Linked DNA regions of Homo sapiens: region 1 is reported to be linked to region 2. Evidence: microRNA targets listed by miRTarBase, many of them from high-throughput screens and not tested one by one. Region 2 holds a microRNA gene; the other region holds the end of a gene's coding sequence.
Evidence for each region. Region 2 holds the annotated microRNA hsa-miR-34c-5p (AGGCAGUGUAGUUAGCUGAUUGC, at 3,186-3,208, opposite strand). A microRNA usually pairs through its seed, bases 2 to 8, with sites in the 3' UTR of a target mRNA and lowers its output. Matches are read on the target gene's strand: a 7mer-m8 pairs with bases 2 to 8, a 7mer-A1 pairs with bases 2 to 7 and ends in A, and an 8mer does both.

Region 1: the mRNA of NOTCH4 is a reported target of hsa-miR-34c-5p. Seed matches in the 3' UTR shown: 7mer-m8 at 4,437-4,443.

What each region holds. Positions count from the first base shown.
Region 1 is chr6:32,190,628-32,196,000 of GRCh38, forward strand. It overlaps NOTCH4 (notch receptor 4), which reads right to left. Exons shown (of 30, transcript NM_004557.4): 30 at 4,216-5,373. The coding sequence ends at 4,810. It overlaps GPSM3 (G protein signaling modulator 3), which reads right to left and starts at 2,016. Exons shown (of 4, transcript NM_001276501.2): 1 at 1,845-2,016; 2 at 1,521-1,623; 3 at 1,082-1,281; 4 at 139-876. The coding sequence starts at 1,886. The coding sequence ends at 739. RefSeq lists a silencer at 317-495 and an enhancer at 4,961-5,373.
Region 2 is chr11:111,511,286-111,516,658 of GRCh38, reverse strand. MIR34C (microRNA 34c) reads right to left here and starts at 3,220; the gene lies at 3,144-3,220. BTG4 (BTG anti-proliferation factor 4) reads left to right here and starts at 4,273. Exons shown (of 5, transcript NM_001367975.1): 1 at 4,273-4,478. HOATZ (HOATZ cilia and flagella associated protein) reads right to left here and starts at 1,881. Exons shown (of 6, transcript NM_001100388.2): 1 at 1,649-1,881; 2 at 1,107-1,148; 3 at 549-619. The coding sequence starts at 1,874. It overlaps MIR34BHG (MIR34B and MIR34C host gene), which reads right to left. Exons shown (of 2, transcript NR_147706.1): 2 at 2,771-3,641. It also overlaps MIR34B.

The DNA of each region.
Region 1 (5,373 bases), not on the chromosome of region 2:
CAGCCGCTGCTTAATGAGCCAGTAATTAACCAGCCGGGGAGGGGAGCTGGCCTCTGGCCAGACTGGGGAGAGAAAAGGCCTCTGGCCTCACCTTCCTACCTTTCACCCCGCCTGGGCCCCCCAGATACCAGTCTGCAGTCCAGAGGGGAATTATATTTATTCACACAACCAAAACATCAGACAGACTCAGCAGCAGTGGGGAGGGAGGGTGGGCAGGGCTGAAGGTCCATTCACAGCCCGTAAACCCCTCAGTCTCAGGGATCGGGGGTGCTGGTAGTGGGACTGGGAGAATAGTCTTAATCTCTCAGGTGCCCACCCACCTTCCCTTCTTACTGGGAGGAAGGGTAGAGCTGTCTCTCAGGTTATAACCTCTCAGGTGGAGGCCTGAGCCCTCAGACCCTACTGCCTAGTAGCTTGACAACTGGTGGTGTCCCCACAAGTTAGGGAAAAGACTCCCAGCCACTCCTTGAGATGGGTGCCTGGGATCCCCCTTACTGCCTCAAGCTCCCATGGACCTGTGGGCGGGGAGTTAAATCCCTGTTCCATCTCGCCTGTTCCCAGAGTTTGAGGACTTTCACCCTGTCCAGTTCCCAGGGAAGGTGATGTGGGAGATGAATATTGAGATTTGTGCCGTGTCTTTCAGTCTCTGGTACCCCTGCCAAGCAAGAGTTGAGGGCATGCAATGGGCTGCCCAGCTTTGAGACCAGTGGCAAGGAAGGGCTGGTTGGGGCTCAAGTCTCAGCAGGTGTGTGTGGGGGGCCGGGACCTTTGCTCCTCCATTCGACCCCCACCCTGAACTCTCAGCAGCAACTCCAGGAGCTCTTGCCCCCCTGGAGGGAGGGGAGGCTCTGACCGCTGGGCTTCCATCCGCTGGCACTGGAGGAGTGGAGGGAGAGGGAGAGCTTTGGTGAGGGTCTGAGAGGAGGAGGTTCTTGAGAGGATCAAGGGTTGGTATGGGGAGGCATATAGGAAACCTGTGAAGGCGATGGGGTGCCTAGGGAGAAACAGGAGTAGAGCCCCAAAGAGAACAGGGGCCAAGAGACCAGGAGGCCTGGGTTTGCCTCCTGGGGGGATGTCTTACCTGGTGACTGAGGATAGTGCTGTAAAGCTGTTCTCTGTCCTCGAGAGGACGGAGTGGGGCAGGGGCTAGGCTTGAGGGGTTTTGGGGGGTGTAGAAGGTGGCCCTCTGCTCCTCCAGGCGGCGGGACTGGGCTTCAGCCACCAGGTCCAGAAGGAGTTCAGTCTGCAGGGAGAGCAGGGAGGCCGAGCGGGGTCCCAGGGCTGGGGAGAGGGGTGTGGAGGGCTCAGAGACCCAGAGAGGTTGGCAGACAGGAGCCGTGGGGGAGTGTGGACAGGGTGACGTGATTAGGGACTTTGGATCAGAGGAGAGGGGGTGCAATGGGGAATCCCAAGGGGAGTCTGGAGGAGGTGGGGAGAGGGCCCACAATGGAGTGGGCCTTGGTAATGGGGTCAGGATGTGGGCACTAGGGTCGGGGCTCTCCCTGGGTGGGTAGGGGTACCTGTGTGGCGGGTCCCTGGAGGAGGAGGGGATGGAGGAGCAGATCGCCAAGGCCGAGTGGTGGAGTTTGGAGGGGGCCAGCCTTCCTCATCCTGAGGGGGGCCCTGATGCCAAAATATGTCCATTCTAGTCAAGCAGTGGTGGTTGAAGCGGGAGGAGTGGACAGGGGGCTAGGCCAGTGGCCCGTTTCCTCTCTGTGTGTCTCTGTTCCTGCCTCAGTTTGCCCAAGCCTTTCAAGGCCCCTGTGTCCCTACATTTCTGCCCCAGGTCCTCTCACCTCCCTTCTTTCCCAGTGTCAGCCTCCCCAACCCCGTGCCCAGCTCACCTGCTCACCATCCTCTTCTTCCTGGGGTCTCTCAGCCTCCATCCCCTAGAGGGGAGAAACTGGTGGGGGAGGGGTGGCTGGGATTTGGGAGGAGGGCTGGAACCTTGGGTTCCTGAGGGGAGTGGGGGCTGGAAGGGGTGGGGGTGAGCTGGGGGCTGGATGCCTGGGTACTGAGCAGGAAGCTGGGTTCCTGGTCAGCCCCCCCACGGGCCCCGCCCATCCCTGTCAACTTCCTCCATTCTCTTCCCACCCAAACAGCTTGTTCAGTCTCTCTCGCCCCAGGGCAGCACTGAGACTGGGAAAAACTCCTCCAGCTGCAGGAGTGGAGGGGGCTCATGGTGGGGAAGGACTCCTGGCGGTCTCATCTCCAGAGCCTCAGTAGTCCCCTAATCCCTGGCTCTGCTCCCTCCACCCCACCTCCTCTTCTGCTCTTTCTGTCAACACAGGAACTAGCTACACAGGAAGTGGTTTCACTCCTCAGAATCCCCCTCCCCCCAGCCAGGTCCCTTCCCTCCCTAAGATAGACCCTGGTGTAGGATTTGGCCCTCCCGATCTTCCCTCTTACTTACCGGGACTGGGAGGGGCATGGTTCCAGTGGGAAGTGGAGGATTCAGATCCAGGGATGTGGAGCTCTCAAATATATACATAAAACCCTAGCACCGGGTCCAACACATAGTAAGTATTCAATATATATGTATTGAATAATCATCCCTGACCTCTAGGTATTTAAAATCTATTCAGGAGATGGCCGGCTGCGGTGGCTCACACCTGTAATCCTAGCACTTCGGGAGGCTGAGGCGGGTGGATTGCCTGAGCTCAGGAGTTGGAGACCAGCCTGGGGAACATGGTGAAACCCCATCTTTACTAAAATACAAAAAATTAGCTGGGCGTGGCCACATGCGCCTGTAATCCCAGCTACTCAGGAGGTTGAGGCAGGAGAATTGCTTGAACCCGGGAGGCGGAGGTTGCGGTGAACTGAGATTGTGCCACTGCGCTCCAGCCTAGGTGACAGAGCGAGACTCCGTCTCCAAAATAAAATAAAATAAAAAATACACTCTATTCAGGAGACAAGATGTGTACCAAATAGAGTACGGGAAGGGTTCATTTTGGAAACTTATAGTTTAGTGCAGACAAGGGGCAGGGGAAATTTTATTTTGGGCATAAGAGATATAGATATGGAACAATGAGAGGCTGAGGTAGGAAGATTGCTTGAGCCCAGGAGGTTGTGGCTGCAGTGAGCCATTTGTGCCACTGCACTCCAGGCTGGGCAACAGAGCAATACCCTGTTTCAGAAAAAGAAAGAAATGAAATGAAATTGAAAAGGGAGAGGACTACCTCTCTGGCTTGGTCTTTGATCAATGCTAATCAGGCTGGTTGGCATCAAGGAAGGAGCAGGGCAGACAACCATTTGGTACCTCTAAATGGCAACCTGTCATGTTAGGGAGTTTATAGCTGAGTGATTTGGAATGTGAAATGTGATGAAGAGATCTGGTCCTGCCGCTTATTCCTTGCAATCTTGGGCAGATCTCTGTGCCTCAATTTCTGAGTGAAATAGGGTTTTAATAGCACCTACTTCATAGGGTTGATGTATTAATAATGTAATGAAGCACTTGATGCATAGTGAATACTTAATAAACTGTAGATATTATTGGCTTTCAAAATGCCTCATGACTCCATGTTTCAAACCTAGCAACATATTGCTGCAAGGTGGACAAAGTTTCAAGATACTCTCTCCATCTACTTGACTTGTGGCCTTAGGAATCTCCTAAGTGGCCATAAGTAAAAGCCCTAGGATGAGGGACAAAGTGTGTGCATCATCTAGTGCAGTGGTCTCCTACCTTTTTGGCACCAGGGAAGAGTTTCGTGGAAGACAATTATTCCATGGTCGGTGGCGACGGAGGGCTGGTTTCAGGATGAAACTGTTCCACCCCAGATCATTAGGCATTAGATTCCCGTAAGAAGCGAGAAACTTAGATCCCTTGCATGCACAGTTCACAATAGGGTTCGAGTTCCTATGAGAATTTAATGCTTATGCTGATCTGACAGGAGGTGGAGCTTGGGCAGTAATGCTTGCTCACCTCCTGCTGTGTGGCCCAGTTCCTAAGAGGCCATGGACCAGTACCAGTCTGTGGCCCAAGGGTTGGGGACCCCTGACCTAGTGTGTGCGGTTTCTCCCTTGGCTACTAGATTCTTGCTTTCAGATAATACCCTAAATTATCATAGGGCCCCTAAATATACTTATTCTTGCTTTTAAACTATACTTACATCCTCCATCCAATCCAAATGCTGAGCCAAAAGCACAAAATGCTGACATTATGCAGTCACTCCCATCTTTTTTCCCATTCTTCTCCCCAATTCCTCCAAAAAAAGGTAACACTTCAAATCAGCTTTATTATGGGTGACAGATTTAGGGTTCTTAAATAGCGATAGCAGTGGCTAGAAGAAGCGCTTCATCCCCACAGTGGAGTTCTTTGTTGTGAGGGGAGGGAATGCAAGGAGTCATCAGCGGGGGTGGCCCTTGGCCACTTTTCAGCACCTACACAGTGCCTGGCACATAGTAGGTGCCCAATAAATATTTGTCAGCCATTTGTGGGCAGTGGGGACAATGGATCATAGGGGCACCCTTTGGAAACCATATATAGGAAAGAACATCTTACATCCCATATGCCTGCAATTCTTGGTTCCAACTTAGGGGTATTTCCACTCCACTCTGCCCTCCTGTGGCCTGTCTTATTTTCTGGAGGAGGACTGGGCCTGCCTCATCCTAGCATCTTAAACCCTCTTTCCAGAGCTGCAGCTTCTCCACGTGGAAGATGTCTGCTCTGGTGGGCATACATTCATTTTAGGAGAGAAACTAAACTCACAACCCTTCATTTTGGGGGATCCATCTTAAAACCAGGAAGGCCTTCCAGCCTGCCTTTTAATGGGTAATCATTTTTGGAATTCCTCCCTACCATGTATTCTTCTATTTTTTACCCTCTCCTCCTTGGTTTATGGGCATTTCTTGGAGGGCTGGGGGACCACAGTCAAGTTGAGGTGATCCCCGCTCCGGGGACGGAGTAAGGCAAGGAGGCGGGATCGGAATGTTGGAGGCAGAACCGCAAGCTCCCAGGGCCACCCAATCACAGGGCCAGTCATCCGTTGAGACCCTGCCTCCGCGCCCGGCAGCCACTCCGTATCTTCCTCGCATTATCGCAGGGTTGGGCCGAGGCCCGCGCATGCCTGCAGAAAACCTACGGCCGCGAGGGGTCGGGCCTCCTCCTGCTCCTACTCCCGAGAGGCTCCGGCAATGAGAATAGGCCCCGCCCCCCCGCGCAGCCAAGTCTACGGACCAAGTCCGAGCCTGCAGACAAGCTCCGCCCCCACGAGGGCCTGCTCCGGCTGACAGCGTCCGGCAGCGCGGCAGAGCCCCGCCCCCATGCGGGGGCACGCTTACTGACACCGTCCGTGCGCGCGGGAAGGGCCCAGCCTCGCGGCCCGGCGTGGCTTTGTGACGGGCCTCTGGTGGCCCAGCCCCTTCCAGCAGCGT
Region 2 (5,373 bases):
TGCAGCCTTGAATTTCTGGACTCAGAGGATCCTTCTGCCTCAGCCTCCCAAGTAGCTCAGACTACAGGTATGCACCAGCAGGCCTGGCAAATTAAAAATTTTTTTTTTTTTTGTAGAGTTAGAGGTCTTACTATGTAGCCCAGGCTGGTCTTGAATTCCTGGCCTCAAGGGATCCTCCTGCCTAGGTCTCCCAAAGCATTGGGATTGTAGGTGTGTACTACTGCACCTGGCCTCTTATGCTATTTCTGTTCTTAGAACACTGTATATGGTTGGGGACCTTACTGGATGGAAAGTGTGTGACTCTACCTCTTTCTATTTCTCTCTGGTTCTGTTGTTCCTATACATTCTTGGACTTTTGCTGAGATTGATAATAGCCAATGTTGAATAGAATTTTTAAATTTTCAATTAAAATTCTAATAAAGGTTTCCTTAATTTGCTCAAGCTGATGCACTAGAAGTAGCAGATTTTTAAATATACATGTGTTTAAAAAATCAAGATTATTTAGAAATTTAATGATGATCAGATGACCTTCTGAAATATTGGCCTACCTTTTGGAGATACTTTACTTTCTCCTCAGATTCCTGTATCTTTAGGGCTTCGGCAAAGATGTCTCTATTTTCTAGAGGGAATAAAGTCAAATTCAATCTGAAATAATTTTATTATGATTTTATACTAAAATTGATATAAAATTGGACATGGGTTGAAAGGGAATACATAGAGTAGGAAGGTAAACAAAAATACATGTGGTGTATTGGAACTTTACAAACCAGATTTGCAAACAACTGGAGACTGAGTTAATTAGCTATGGCTGCAGGGAACCTCTAATCTCTTTAGATGATGAGTAAGCTCGAGTCCAGAGACAAGAAAAAGTCTCGAAAGAGAGCATATCTGCAGGATCAGAGATTCCAATTTCTACATTCCTGTTCAAACTGTTAAAGGAATTTAGGCATTGTCCTCTGGATAAACAGGGTGGTCCCTGAGCAGGGACTTAGGTGTTCAATTCAGAAAGTTATACCACAGTGTAAAGTAGTACCCTTGTACTTATTGTCTATTTTCTGATGAACCTAGGAGTCAGAATGTTGAAAGGCATAAAACTTGGTACTTACTGTTACTCGCAAGGTGAAAAGACTGCGAGGAGTGGCTGTTTTCTAAAAAATACAAAAGGGAAGTAAAGAAATCATTGGAAAAGTCAACAACATTAAAGGCGTTTGAATTTTTTATACTATAACAATTGCATAACAGTTTCCACATCCTAGGCCTCACTAAGGGCTCACAGGTCCAGGAAGTTCATTGGTAATGTTGACTCCACCTTCATCTTTCTCCAGGGCTTTTCATGTTTGAATTAAACTATGTAAACTATCCTTTCAGCCAACACATAGCATTTCCTCAGATTATTCTATACTGTTTACCAAATAGATGCCATAATTTAAGGGAAACTTATATGTTTTTAGATGTAACATATATACCACTGATCCTTTTCGGGTGGAAGGGTTGCTGGAAGGGTTCAGGAAATATTTATACATGCATTTGTATGTACTTATAACTATTTGTATATACCATTGCAGTTTCTCCTGGAAAGGGCTCTGGTACCTGCAGGCCAGTTACGGTGAGGCAGATATGACTGACAGGAGGCCGCTATTCTACTCACCAGACCCTCTGCTCCTCCTGGGCCGCGCCACCGGCAGACGCTGACTGCTGTCTCTGCGCAGCACCAGCTGAGATTCGCTAGGGGGATACATCGACGCCGAGATCCAGAACTGCTTAGCCAAGTTGGCATCTTGTTCCGAGGAGCCAGCAAATACCAGTAATCCCGGGGGGCACATTTCCTGGGACTCTTTTCGGCCGCTAGGTTCTTCGCTGGGTCCCGTTTCCATGGCAACTGAGGACGCTTCTGCAAGCGTCCTCTCCCCTCCCCCCGCCCCGCCCCTGCCCCGCCCCTCCGAGAACCGCCAAGTTGGTACCAGCCCCTGCCGGCTGCCCTCGGTTTCCTAGGTAGGTGTTGGGATCCGCCACGCGCGTGGGGGCCGTCGGAAGCCCACCCCTGCGGTGATCAGGTTTTAGGACCAGTCCAAATCTTGGATATGGGAGAGTCAAAACGTCAACTTTGGGTTGTGTCCTGTCGGAGTCAGTGGGGGAGTAGTTTAGCTTCTTATATCCTCAGTGGGCTGCCACATCCTCTCCCCTCCCCCCAGAAAGATAGCTAAATAAACTTTAAATTCCTCAGCCCCATTGCCCCAATCCCCACTTCCAAACCAGATTGCCAGGGACAGCACCTGCTAGGTGGAAGTTCTGAGAACGTTGCGCTGGAGAATTCACGCCTGAAAGCCTAGCCCTTGGGAGCTAGAGGCCTGAACTGGGCGGATACGTGCCCATGTGTACAGTTTCTGTGATTTTAAAATTCTGAATCCTTTAAATCTTAGGAAACAAGCTGGATTTAAAGTGTAAGTGCATTTACTAATCACTCCCACTAAAAGTTGCATAGACTCCAACAGTTGTAAATGATTACTTAAAAGAAGGGATACATCTTAATGAGTGAACAGAGTCTCTTCATGGAAAAAAGAAGTATGAAAAATTTTGTTAATGTATTTCTTATAAAAGTATTAACAAGTCTGTGTGTATGAGTAGCTTTCCCGGGAGATTTTTGTCATGGCAGGAACAACTTAACCACTTCATTGATAGAAAAGTTAAGATTACTGTGGCAGGAACTGAGATGGACATCATAAAGTCAATTTAGCAAAGGAAATGGACACATAGCAATAACCACAATTTATGTCTTTATGGCACTTTATTCTTTCGAAATATTACTAACAATATTACTTTCAAAATATTACTAACAATATAGTCTCAAGAAGTTAATAATCACATGTTCATATAATAACATACATCAGTCAGCTAAGAAAAAAATCATATTCCCCCTTATATCTAAAATTTTGGTTAAGAGCCTGAAGGAATATTGAAAAAAAAACAAAACAAAACCCCACATACATACACATTACATACATTGTAAACTTAGTAGCTGAAATGTTGATTTTTTTCTTTTGGCTGAGCAATTAATAGGCAATGGATGAAATCAGCATTTTCCAACACCCCTCTTCCCCACGCACATTGATGATGCACAGGCAGCTCATTTGGACGAATTCCCAAATCTTTTTACCTGGCCGTGTGGTTAGTGATTGGTACTATTAGCAATCAGCTAACTACACTGCCTAGTAACTAGACTCATAGAAAAAATTGCAGTCTCAAGTTGGTACCCCAACACGTTGTGACAGGCAGGCAATTCATTGGTTGAGTTGGAGCTCAACTGAGTTGCTAGCTTGGTGAATACTCTACTAGACGATGGCAAATAGACACAGTGAATCACAGCATACAGTATTAACCGTTACATGGATGGAGGGGCTTCACCTCCAGGGATTTTGCTTTCCTGGCATGAGACTGTTTCATCTTCTGTGACTCCTAGAGAGAGCTAACAGTTTAACTGTATCTGGAGAAACCGCGGGTTTCCTCGCACTTGCAGCGGGCGCTCGCGGGGCAGGCTGCGCAGGACCCACGCCGACGCCGCGCTTCTCAGGCATCTTCTCTCGAAGGCTGCGGGCTGCCCGAGCCGGCGTCTTCTTCCCGGCCGGGCGGCGGTGATGCTGTGCCTTGTTTTGATGGCAGTGGAGTTAGTGATTGTAACCACCACAGTACAATCAGCTAATGACACTGCCTACAAACCGAGCACCGGGCACCCGCGGCTGCAGCTCCCGGACGGTCCGCAGCGCCGACGCGGGGTCGGGGCCCGCCTCGGACCCCATTTCACCGGGGGACGCCCTACCATGGCTGGGCGCAAGCGGCCCCCGAGGACACCCCCGGGCCCAGCGGGACCCCCGCCGGCCTCGCAGCGCACAACACGCGTAGCTGGGCCAGCGGGCGGCGCTGCCGGGGAGGACCCGCGCCCTCCCAGGCCGGGAGCCGCGCCCCGACCCCCATGACCCCCAGGAGTGCCAGGCCTCCCCTTCCCGCAGCCTCCCGCTCCTCTCAGGGCCCTCCCGCTCAGGTTCCCCTCGCTTTTCCTTTCCCCTTCGCCTCCTCGGCCCGGGCTCCCACTTCCTTCACGCCAGGCTTCAGTTCCCAGCCCCAAACCCTAGAGCTGGCTCTCTCGACCCCGTGCGCCCCGCCGCTCTGAGCGGCCGAGTGACTGTGGCGGGGGCGACCAACCGTCCTTGGAACCCCGCGGGCCGAGGGGCGGGGCGGGCGCGAGACGGGGCGGGTGGGGGAGGGGATGGGGGGGGGGAGGAGGCTGAGAGAAAGCGCTGTGGGCGGTCCCTGAAGGGCCTCCAAGGGAGACGCCTAGAAGATGGAGGCCCAGATTCTTGAGACGTTTCTCTTTCTGATCTAGCAGGAGGGACAAAGAGCTCCTCCACTCCCTCATTCCCCAAGAAGGCCCCCAGCCTACCCAGTTTCCGTGACCATTCCGCCCTGGGAAAGCGGCTTCCCAGGTACCTCAAATTATAGGTTTGAATTTTCCAAATGGAGGTGGGCTTGGGTAGCCTCTGACATATGGGAGGATGGCTTGGAGAGTCTCATCTGCACCTCTGTGCTCTGTTGGGGACTTGGCCTTATACTCTTAGAGGGCCATGCAGTGATGTGAAGCCTGGGCCTTCTAGTCAAATAGTGAGCCAGGCAGCTTGTTAGTTACATCAAATCGTGGTCCTCTTGAGATCAAGGCCATACCATTCAAGACAGTATATATATAATAAATTACTAAACTAGGGACTATTTAGAATAGTAGAAACTATTTGTATCAGAAATAGAAGGGAGGTCCTCAATGAGAGCTGTAATAGGTCAAAGAAGGTTCCCAGAGGAGGTGAGACTTGAGTAGATCCTTGATGCACGAGTACATTTGGATATTCAGGGTTAGGGCTGTGGATGCCAGAAAAACAGTATCTTGTGACAGTTGGGCAAAAGGGACAGTTACAGAGGACTTCTGGGAGATCTCTGCTAATAACTTTCCTTCCCCTCCTTTGCCTTTAATGAATTAATCAGGAGAGGATAAGGAATGTTCTCTTTATCCTCACCTTGTGAAATTCAGCTGGAAGCAGCCTCCCCTAGAAATATGGTCTTCATGCATCCAGTATAGAGCACCCATTGCTGACACCAAAGGCTTAGTTCTAAATTAGTTTCTGCAAAAGAAAACTTCCCACCTATAGATTGATTCCCTAAAACCAGCAAATGGTCTCATAGATGCCACAAGTAACATGAACAGGGGCAGGTCATCTGGATCATTCAATACAAACTACAAACTCACACTATTAAAACAACTAAAGAACTGCCCAAGGATGTTTGAATAAGTTATAGCATTTTCTTTGCATATGAAAGACAGCACTTTTTTTC